Regions from separate parts of the Homo sapiens genome. Here region 1 is linked to region 2. Evidence: fine-mapped expression QTL. A gene starts in region 2. The other region holds a variant in brackets. All regions are shown on one strand. Distances are from middle to middle.

Region 1 (5,383 bases), 74 kb after region 2:
TGCAGCCCTTTGTCTTTCTTCTGTTGCCAGCTCTTTTTATTCCCTTTAGTCTGCTCTATGTTTTATTGTTCCATACCACCTACTGCCTGTTTGTCAGTGGTCTCCTTCCGCTAGAATTTGTTCCACGAGAGCCAATATTTTTGTTGTTTGCTCTATCCCTAGCATCTAGGACAGTGCCTGGCACACTGGCCCTGGTCCTGGGAGCCTGAGACTTGTGTTCCAACATTGCCCCTGCCTAACTCTTTGACTTTGGACAAATCCTTTAATCTCTGGGCCTTAGTCTCCTTGGGCCTTAGCCATGACAATCACTGAGGTCCCTATAGGTCTACATTTTTGTTTATTCTATGAAAAATGAAGATATTATAGCAACTGTTACTTGTCTGAGTCAAATAAAAAGCAGTGTCACAAGAGTGGCATTGTTCTAATATGTCCCTTAAATGTTAATACATATTTTTAAAAATTGCTGGATACTTTTATAAATAATTACCTAAGTCCTTGATTTTATTTAATATATTCTAAATCTCCAATTGTAGTGACTCATGAAATGTGGCTTGCAACTCCCAGGTAGTTTTCTGTAAAGGCAAATGAATCATTGTATAAATGTTCCATTGAATTTTATGTTATAGCTGCTGGCAAGTGAAAGAAATAGTTTGTTTATATCTTTCAATCTTATTGTTTCTCTTTTATGAAATATTTTTAAAATCTGTAAACTGCTTAGTAGCTTATGGAACTTGAATGAAAAAATACTACTGAATTGTGTTTTTTTAAAATGTGAGGTTACTTTAAAAGTGATTACAGAAGTTAAGAAATTTAAAATGTGATTGTGAAAATCTTGATAAATTAAGGTTCAACATTTGTTTGCCTATATGTCAATGTGTAAATACACATATTTTTAATTCTTAATAAAATATACATGAGTAGACTCTTGCATATATTTTATATATGTAAAATAGCTGTGTGATTGTAATCATACCAAAATATTATTCCTGTTCCTTTCACTTCCTTAGAGATTTACATGACAGTCCCTACCTCTTAGTTCTGTTTTCTGCTTTAAAAGTTCTTCATGTTGGGAGGCCAAGGCAGGCGGATCACGAGGTCAAGAGATCGAGACCATCCTGGCCAACATGATGAAACCCCATCTCTACTAAAGATACAAAAATTAGCTGGGCGTGGTGGCGCACACCTGTAGCCCCAGCTACTCGGGAGGCTGAGGCGGGAGAATCGCTTGAACCCAGGAGGCAGAGGTTGCAGTGAGCCGAGATTGTGCCAGTGCACTCCAGCCTGGTGACAGAGCGAGACTCTGTCTCAAAAAAAGTTATTTATGGCCAAAGGAATGAGAATAAATCTAGTCTAGGGAGGCTTATGATTTAGGAATAATTGCATTCTGTAGGAGCACTCAGAGCTGGTGTTTGGCCCTCCCCAGTATTAAATACTGACTTGATTTCTTTCTTTGTTCTCTTAGGTGTGTCTCTCTCCTCTGTGGCTTCTGAAAGTGATTATGCTATTCCTCCTGATGCTTACTCCACAGACACGGAGTACTCACAGCCAGAGCAGAAGCTCCCAAAAACTTGCTCATCTTCCAGTGATAATGGGAAAAATGTAAATATTGAATATGATTTTTAAAAAGCAGTCAGTCAGATTGAGCCTCCAAAAGGAAACTGAAAATGCTTTTGTCTATCTTTTAAAAATTAGGAACCACTGGAAAAATCTGGTTATTTATTAAAAATGAGTGGTAAAGTCAAGTCTTGGAAGCGGCGGTGGTTTGTTCTTAAAGGTGGTGAATTACTTTACTACAAATCTCCGGTGAGTGGAAAGTGTTTTCTGTTTAGAACGTAATTCCTCAAACTATAAATCAGACGCCTGATTGATTTCCTTCCCATAATGCAAGTAATGATACAAAGCATTCCTTATTATTACTGTTAAAGTTAATCACTTTCCATTTGTTTTTCTGTTTCATACAGAGTGATGTAATTAGAAAACCCCAGGGCCATATTGAACTTAGTGCATCCTGTAGTATTTTAAGAGGAGATAACAAACAAACAGTTCAGGTACTTAACTTTTTTTTTTTTTTTTTTTTTTTTGTATCATGCCAGACTCAATTCTCAATTATCCAACCTAATGGAAAGGAGATAGGATAATTCAGTGTTTCTTTATTCACTTTGGGGGGTTAGTTTGATGCCTTGGAAGTATGTGAAACTCCACGAATTTTTGGTTAAAACTATAATGTAAGTTAGGTGTGTGTTGAGTAACTCCCACCACACTTTACCTTTCTTCCTTTATACTCTTCTTTCCTCATATTTAATCTCCTAGGTATTTTCAGCTGTCCAACTGTGAAGCTATTTTAAGGAAGGGTTATCTGGTAAATGAATTCTCAATAAGATGTTAGTTATATAATGTACTGTGAAATTCAGGAATGTTTGTATTTTAATATAGAATCTGAAAATGACAGTTCTTATATGAACTTCAGATGCCATAACACCAAAGTGGGAAATATATTGGTGAGCAGAGGGAGTGTGCTGCCAAGCAAGTCACACTGTAGGGGCAGCTGCTGCCCATTTTACTCACACATAAGGCCAGTCTTGCCAGAAATCTGTTAAATTTAAAACACAGGCTGTTGAGATATTCTAGTATATGTAATTTAAAGTCAGACACTTTATTTCTGAAATGTCTTCAATAACCATTATTTTCTTATATTGCTCCTTTGGAGGGTGGAGGACAACTTTGCCAGAAAGGTACATTATCAATGTTTCCAGTGATTTGTACCTGAAAACCTCTCAAAAATTTAGAAAGGAGAATCAAGGAAAGCTTTGTCTTTGGGCATGGCAGTTAAGAATCATTTGTAAGTTTCTGAAATTTGGAAAATTTGCAGTGTGGCTAATTTGAGACTGGAACATTCTGAGTTCATAATATCTAATCACATGTTCGTTCCAATAATTTATCTTCTTATATGCAAGATCTTCTTATTTTATTTATAGTTGATTTTGTCATTTGTATTAAGAAACCTCTTCTTTAGTTGCTAAAACTATGCTATTTTATTATAGTCTTTAATCATTCTGCTCCTCATTTCAATAAGTAGGAACCTGGCCGGGCG[C/T]GGTGGCTCACGCCTGTAATCTCAGCACTTCAGGAGGCTGAGGCAGGCGGATCATGAGGTCAGGAGATCGAGACCATCCTGGCTAACACGGTGAAACCCCGTCTCTACTAAAAATTCAAAAAAAATTATCCGGGCATGGTGGCAGGTGCCTGTAAGTCCCAGCTGCTCGGGAGGCCGAGGCAGGAGAATGGTGTGAACCCAGGAGGCGGAGCTTGCAGTGAGCCAAGATGGCGCCACTGCACTCCAGCCTGGGCGACAGAAAGAGACTCTGTCTCAAAAAAAAAAAAAAAAGAAAAGTAGGAACCTGTAACACATTTAAGCAAGAAAGGGAAAATGTGACAAATAAACAAGATATAAAATCATAACCCCAAAATTAGGTAAACTGGAGTAACAAAGTTATTTCCACAAAAATTTAATTGCTGTAATTCTCACAAAGTGGTTAAAATATTCTAACTGATATGGAGTCATTTATTTAGAAACTGGGACTTGAGATTTAGCATGTTTGCTTCTGTGTTAAGTAATGACGTTTGAATAATGAACAAGGAAATGCTAACAATCCTAAATCTTCACAGTTTTCTTTCCTATACCTTTCTCGTTGCATTCTAGTTGACCACTGAAAAACACACATACTATCTGACTGCAGATTCTCCCAATATATTGGAAGAGTGGATTAAAGTGTTACAGAATGTTCTTCGAGTACAAGCTGCCAACCCACTTTCCCTGCAGCCTGAGGGCAAACCCACCATGAAGGGATTGCTCACTAAGGTAGGAACCTCCTGTGCATAGCAATGTCCCAGGCAGCTATGGGCATGAGCCCATGATCGCTGAAAATGGGATGTCAGAGCATATACATATATTGAATATTGATATGATCTTGGGGATAGGAAAGGGTGTTTTTAAGTATGATGCCCAAGGCAAAAACTATAAAGATGAAAAGAAGACAAATTTGACTATAATATGTAAAAATGTAAAGGCTCTATTAAAAATTCTACGAGCAGAATTTTTAAAAGAAGGATTGAAAAACTTTGAAGAGGTATTTGAAACATGTGAAAACTGGTTAATATCATTAATATTTAACACGTTTTTTTCTAATCAGTAAGCAAACAATGAACACCAATTGGGGGAAAAGGAACAAAAGACTCAATGGGCAGGAAAGAGAGATCATCGAGGTTAGAAGGAATACAAATGATCAATAAGCATATGGAAAAACATTTTACTGTCACTCAATTTTTTTAAAAGCACAGATTGAAATAAGAGGTGGCACTTTTTAAAATCTGGTGAAAAGTAAGACGTTTTTACAAATTTTGAAACCTAGTATTGACACAGATTAAAAAATCTGCTAGTTTCTGCAATTACATAGGCAGTAGAAAAAAAAAGAAATCTGCTAGTGAGAGCATTACTCTAAAAGGCAGTTTGGCAATATCTTGGCTGAAGTGTTAACTTAGCCAATAATTTTGAGTGAACAAATCAATATCAAATCAACACACACACACACACACGCATATATATCTCCTTTGATCCAGCAATCTCAGTTTTAAAAATTTATCCTTAGGAAGTGGTCTTAATTTGCAAAAGATTTAATTATGAGATGTTCCTCACAGCATGTTTTTTTTCCTATTTTAAAAAATGAGGTATGATTAATATATCTGAAATGCACAGATCTTAAGTGTAGAGTTTGACTAGTTTTGAAAGCTATTTACTTTTGACTCTATCAAGATGCAGAACATTTCCATTACCCCAGAAAGATTCCTTGCACAGCATGGTTCATAATAAAGAAAAATTGGGATCAAATTAGATGTAGGGTAAGGTATAGCTTTAAAAAATGTTTGTACAACCATATAATGCTTTACTATGCAGCCTTTTAAATGTTGTAAAAGAATATCTAATGCTATAGAAATATGATGTATTGTTAGGTAATAAGTAGAGTGCAGTATTACATTATTATACCTTATTTGTTGTAAGTATTTATAGAAAAATGTCTGGGAAATATACCAAAGTATATTGGTTATCTCTGTGATTTTATTTATTTTTGCTTAATTCTGTTTTTTTTTTTTTTACAATGAGTAAGTATTGACTTAATATTATTTTTAAGTTTTAAAAAGTCCTATTGGTCACTTTTTGAAAAATACAACAAAATATGTATACACACATAATCACTCCTCATTCATGTACTCTGATTATGTAAGAGGTGGAAAATTAGATGGAAAGTAACTATGCTACTGTGTAGTTTATACTTATTATTAATGTGGGAATGTAGGTGGGTGTTATTCCATAATATTTAAAAAGACTGAC
Region 2 (5,383 bases):
TCACTTGTCTTAGCCATCACCCCGATCCTTCCCAGCCCTAAGCAACCACCAATCCACTTATGTCTCTATGGATTTGCCTGTTCTGAACATTTCATGTAAATGGGATCCTACAGTATGTGCCTTTTAAATGACTGGCTTCTTTCATTAAGTATAATGTTTTCAAGGTTTATCAATGTTGTAGCATGTATCAGTACTTTATTTCTTTTTACCACTGAATAATATTCCATTGTACCATGTGTTTTTCTCAGCATAGACAAAGATAGGATGCTGTTCCGCTGTATTCTCCATACCCAGACAAATTCAGTTTGTCATGTTTCTAGAAAAAGGTGACAGTAAGTAAATATTGGCTAAGCCTTACAAGGGTGGCAGCCGTGTTTACAAAGCGGCTTTTCATGAGTGACTTTATTCACTCAGTTCTTTTAGTCTAATTAGTATTTCTGACTCACAAACGGAAGTGATTCTATTTTGGCATTCTTTCTCTCTTTCTCCTGCTTGGTCTCTACTGACTTGCTGTGTTAAATTATGCAAGTTACTGAAACTCTGTTTGTTTAACTCCTGCGTGCTCTATAAAATAAGCCCAGTCCAGTCTGCTTGTTTGCCAAAGCTGTTTGAAGACAATTTTTCATATGATATGCATCATCAGCTCCCACAGAAGGCAAAAGGAATTTGATGTGTGGGGGTAGTCTGGGATCCTGTTCAAAATTAATGCTCATCTGGAAGAAATATGAAAGCCTGATACTTGCTTACTGGACTTTTAGTTGTATTCACTTATTGCTTTTCCTCTGAGAAACTTTGAAAATCTTTATCTCTTTTGTGGTTTTTTCTTTCCTTTTTTTTGAGACAGAGTCTTGCTCTGTCACCCAATCTGGAGTGCAGTGGTGCGATCTCAGCTCACTGCAACTGCTGCCTTCCTGGCTCAAGCGATTCTCCTGTCTCAGCCTCCTGAATAGCTGGGATTACAGGCGTATGCCACCATGTTCAGCTAATTTTTGTATTTTTAGTAGAGATGGGGTTTCGATATGTTGGCCAGGATGGTCTCAAACTCCTGACCTCAAGTCATCTGCCCGCCTTGGTCTCCCAAAATGCTGGGATTACAGGCATGAGCCACTGTGCCCATCCTCTGTGTGTGTGTGTGTGTGTGTGTGTGTGTGTGTGTGTGTGTGTGTGTGTTTTATATAAGATGAGATAAAGTTAAAAAAAAAAAGATTGTAGTAGAAAAAGTTTTTCTGATACTCTCTATTGGCCAACTGTGAACCAAAGAGAATAATCTGTCTGACCTAGCTTTGTGACCTGGGGAACGATTATCCATAACATTCAGAATTCTCTTTATTTTACCCTGAGATTGACCTCTCCAGACCCTAAGTTGGGATGTAAAATTCACCTGGATTTAAATTATCACTAATTTACTTATGCAATATGCTCTGTGCTGAGGAGAATGCAAAAAAAAAAAAAAAACCACAAATCCTTGTTTTCAAAGTGCTCACAGTCTAAAAGAGATGTGAGGAGCTGTGCATAAGGCAGAGGGAGCTAAGCCCCAAGAGAGGCAAAAATCTAGATGTTCAGGGAGCAGAAACCAGAGAAGACCTTTTTTTTTTTTTTTGTCTCAGATGGAGTCTTGCTCTGTAGGCAGGCTAGAGTGCAGTGGTGCTATCTTGGCTCACTGCAACCTCCGCTTCCCAGGTTCAAGCGATTCTCCTGCCTCAGCCTCCCGAGTAGCTGGGACTACAGTCGTGCACCACCACGCCCAGCTAATTTTTGTATTTTTAGTACAGACCAGGTTTCACCATGTTGGCCAGGATGGTCTCGATCTCTTGACCTCGTGATCTGCCCTCCTCGGCCTCCCAAAGTGCTGGAATTACAGGCATGAGCCACTGCGCCCGGCCCAGAGACGACATTTCTGCCAGGTGGAGCGACAGACATAGTTACATGGAGAAGATGATGATGATGATGATGATGATAATGATGATGATTTGAGACAGGATCTCGCCCAGTCGCCCAGGATCCAGTGCAGTGGCATGATCGCGGCTCACTGCAGCCTCCATCTCCTGTGTTTAAGCAATCCTCCAGCCTTAGCCTCCTGAGTAGCTGGGACTACAAGTGAGCGCCACCAAGCCCAGCTAATTTTTTTTTTTTGTGTGTATATATATATATATATATATATATTTTTTTTTTTTTTTTGGTAGAGACAGGGTTTCACCATGTTGCCCAGGCTCGTCTCGAACTCCTGGCCTCAAGTGATCCACCTGCCTCGGTCCCCCAAAGTACTGGGATTACAGGCGTGAGCCACTGCGCCCGGTGAGAAGATTATTCTGAGCTTTTTGAAGTGGAGACAGGAAATAGCATGTAAACGCTCCTAGTGCCACTTCCTTCGGGTGGCGAGGTGCACAGCAGTAGTCTCAGGTGTGTGAAGGGCAGCTGTGAGAAATAAACCTGAAAAGACGGGATGGAGACCTTGAACACTAGACTAGGGAATCTGTTCTTGATAATTTAAGCAAACGGAAGCCAATGAAAGTCTTTGGCACACTGTTCATCAAAACTGCTCTTAAGGAAATTAACCTGGCAGGAAGATGAAGGGTGGATTGGCAAGAGGAGAGACTTCAGACTGGGAGACCAAGGGAGGGTGCTGCAACAGTCCAGGCAGACGGAGTGGAATGAAGGTGACCGGCCGCTGCAGCAAGCTCTGGAGTCTCGCAGTTGGGACGTTAGGGGTACCACTCCAGGACAGAGCTCCCTCCTGGGGCAGGGACTGGGAGGAGCCAAAGTTATAGCCACACCCCCGGTGACGCCCGGTGGTCGGCTGTGGTCTCCCATTGGCTACACCGGCTGCCAGTCCCTGGAGGAGGCGGTGCCCTTCCCCGCCCTCTCCGAGCTCGGCTTGAGGCGGGCGCGGGCTGAGAGTCCGGGGATCCCGGGGGCCAGTCGCGGCCGGGACATCGGGCGCTGCGGCCGGGGACCCGCTGCTGAGATAGACAGGTGAGAAAGCCCGGGGACGAGGGGCCACTCCAGAGTTCCTGCCACCCTGGGATCCCCGCCCCCTTGAGGGCGCCCCGTCCAGGGGGGCTCGCGGGGCCGAGGTTTGGGGCGCCGGGAGGAGCGGGAAGGCGGGGACGAGAGGGACGGAGCGGGCTGACTCGGGATCCGCCGCTGCACCTCCCGCCACAGCCCAGAGTCGGCCCCCAAGTCTGGATGTCGCCGGGAGAGGTGGGCAGGGGGCGGTGGCCGGCGGTCCCTCGCGCCCGTGGGCTCCCGTGACGTTCTGTTTGGAAACACTGGGCCCGGGCTTCTGGCGCGGCGCGAGCGGTCCCGGGGGCGCAGCGGGGCAGCCCAGGGTCCCCGAGCCGAGGGACCCGCGCGGTCAGGGATGCCGCGCTCGCCTTAGGCTTCGGGAGATCCACCAGGATCTCCGGGGCGAAACTTTAAACTCAAAACTTTAAAGAAGCATTTTGTACACCTCGAGTTGCTGGCACGTCAAAGCACCCTAAGGTGACCTACCCGGAAACCACTGTCCCCGAAGTTAGTGGGGCACTTTTTAAAGGACAACACTTTTTACCCGTCGATATTGTTGTGCGTAACGCTGTGGAAATAGAAGTCGAACCACTTACATTGGAAAAGCTCTGGTGGTGGGCTACCTGAGGGTCACTGCTTTCTTTGTGAAAATGCCAGTCTTGGAAGCCTGGCCCGCACAGCGGTGTGTCCCAGAGGAGTATGTAGTGAGGAGCTCGGCTGTTCTGGGCAGGGTCACCGAAGGGCAGGCGTTGCCCAAGTGGGGCTAGGTGGCTAGGTGGTGGTCAGAAGGTTCCTTAAACAAGGCATGCCTCAGTCTCGTCGAGAAAGATCTTTTAACACACACACACACACACACACACACACACACACACACACTCACACACACGATTACCCAGCCCAGTTAAGCTGTCCCTTAAGAGGCAAAAACTAAAGAATATCATAGAGACTAACGCTGCGCTTCATCAGGGTAAGCCTAAGTAGAATAATTCTTTCATTTCTTTTTCTTTCCTTTTTGGGATTTGGAAGAGAAACAGGAAGTCAGAGATTCAGAGAAAAGAGCATTCACTCCACAATTGTAAACAGTTTATCTTATGTCAGTAAATACTTCCAAAAATCACTGGGGGTATTTGGAACTCCAAGACTTTTTCCTGTCCCCTGAAGTGAAGATAGATTATTTTCAAATGCAGAATCTAGACATGATAGATTCCTTTCAAATTCAGAATCTATATGTGGTATTTTCTTTATTTAGCAGTCGGCTATGTTATATAGTTATATATATATTCCCAATGTTATATAGTTCTATAACATTAGTGGTAATGAAAAGGATGGCGGATATTGTTTAAAATTAGAATTTTTAACTACCCAAGATGGTGCACTAATACAACAGTTGCTTTGTACTTGTTAACTAACTGAAATTACAGAATGAAATGAGGGAATCAGGTGTCTGGATCTCAGTGCAGACCATTATCCAACCAATTTGCAGTTCTGATTTATTATGACCCATTAATAGGGAATGTAGATGTTAAATGCCAATTTAATAATATTCTTAAGGCTTTGCTACTTCACTATAAAATATATAATTAGCATAACTAAAGAAATAGGTATGTTTGACTTTGAATTAATTTATTATGTCATCATAGCAAAGTGCGCTAGGTAAGATATATGTATGATACTTTTCATATTTGGGGTTAACAGTTACCTCTCAATTTTTTGAGCTAATTGTGAAATTCTTGGCAGGGATAACCACAAATAATGGTTGATTAAATTTGTAAATGCAGTCCTAGTATACATCCATTTAAACTGCGACTTTTTCTTTAGTCATTTGTAAATATGTGATCTTTTTTATTGAGATCTTAATATAAGTCACAAACTATAAGATTTTTCCTTTTAAAGTATACAGTTCACTGGGTTTTGGTATATTCACAAGGTTGTATAGCCATCACCAATATCTAATTCTAGAATATTTTCATCACCCCAAAAAGAAACCCCCTATCCATTGTAGTCAGTATCTGCTACCTTCTCCTCACAGCCCTTGGCAACCACTAACCTACTTTCTGTCCTTTGGATTTGCCTCTTATGGACATTTCATGTAAATGGACTCATACAATATGTGGCCTTTTGTGTCTGGCATCTTTCACTTAGCATAATGTTTTCAAGGCTCTTCCATGACTATAGCGTGTATTAGTACTGTATTCCTTTTTTATGGCCGAATAATATTCCATTGTATGGATGTACCACTTTTTTTTTTTTTTTTTTTTTTTTGAGACAGAGTCTCACTCTGTCACCCAGGCTGGAGTGCAATGGCAGGATCTCAGCTCACTGCAACTTCTGCCTCCTGGGTTAAAGCAATTCTCCTGTCTCAGCCTCCCTAGTAGCT

Alleles and levels. Positions count from the first base shown, and alleles are read on the strand shown. Sizes are in standard deviations (SD) of each study's normalised expression.
For the expression in tibial nerve of the gene that starts at base 2,854 in region 2, T is the low allele of the variant in region 1 and C is the other (moderate effect, 0.60 SD a copy in GTEx).

What was found.
Region 1: its variant is fine-mapped to the expression of PLEKHH2 in tibial nerve (GTEx, PIP above 0.99). The same link has a PIP of 0.9 or more in esophagus muscle, lung, sun-exposed skin, thyroid, transverse colon and unexposed skin.

The regions. Positions count from the first base shown.
Region 1 is chr2:43,708,528-43,713,910 of GRCh38, forward strand. PLEKHH2 (pleckstrin homology, MyTH4 and FERM domain containing H2) reads left to right here. Exons shown (of 30, transcript NM_172069.4): 12 at 1,463-1,599; 13 at 1,693-1,803; 14 at 1,962-2,048; 15 at 3,698-3,856. Among named protein-coding and RNA genes, the nearest start is that of C1GALT1C1L, 35 kb to the left of the region's middle. The variant C/T (reference allele first, on the strand shown) is at 3,092.
Region 2 is chr2:43,634,407-43,639,789 of GRCh38, forward strand. It overlaps PLEKHH2 (pleckstrin homology, MyTH4 and FERM domain containing H2), which reads left to right and starts at 2,854. Exons shown (of 30, transcript NM_172069.4): 1 at 2,854-2,973. RefSeq lists a silencer at 2,758-3,087.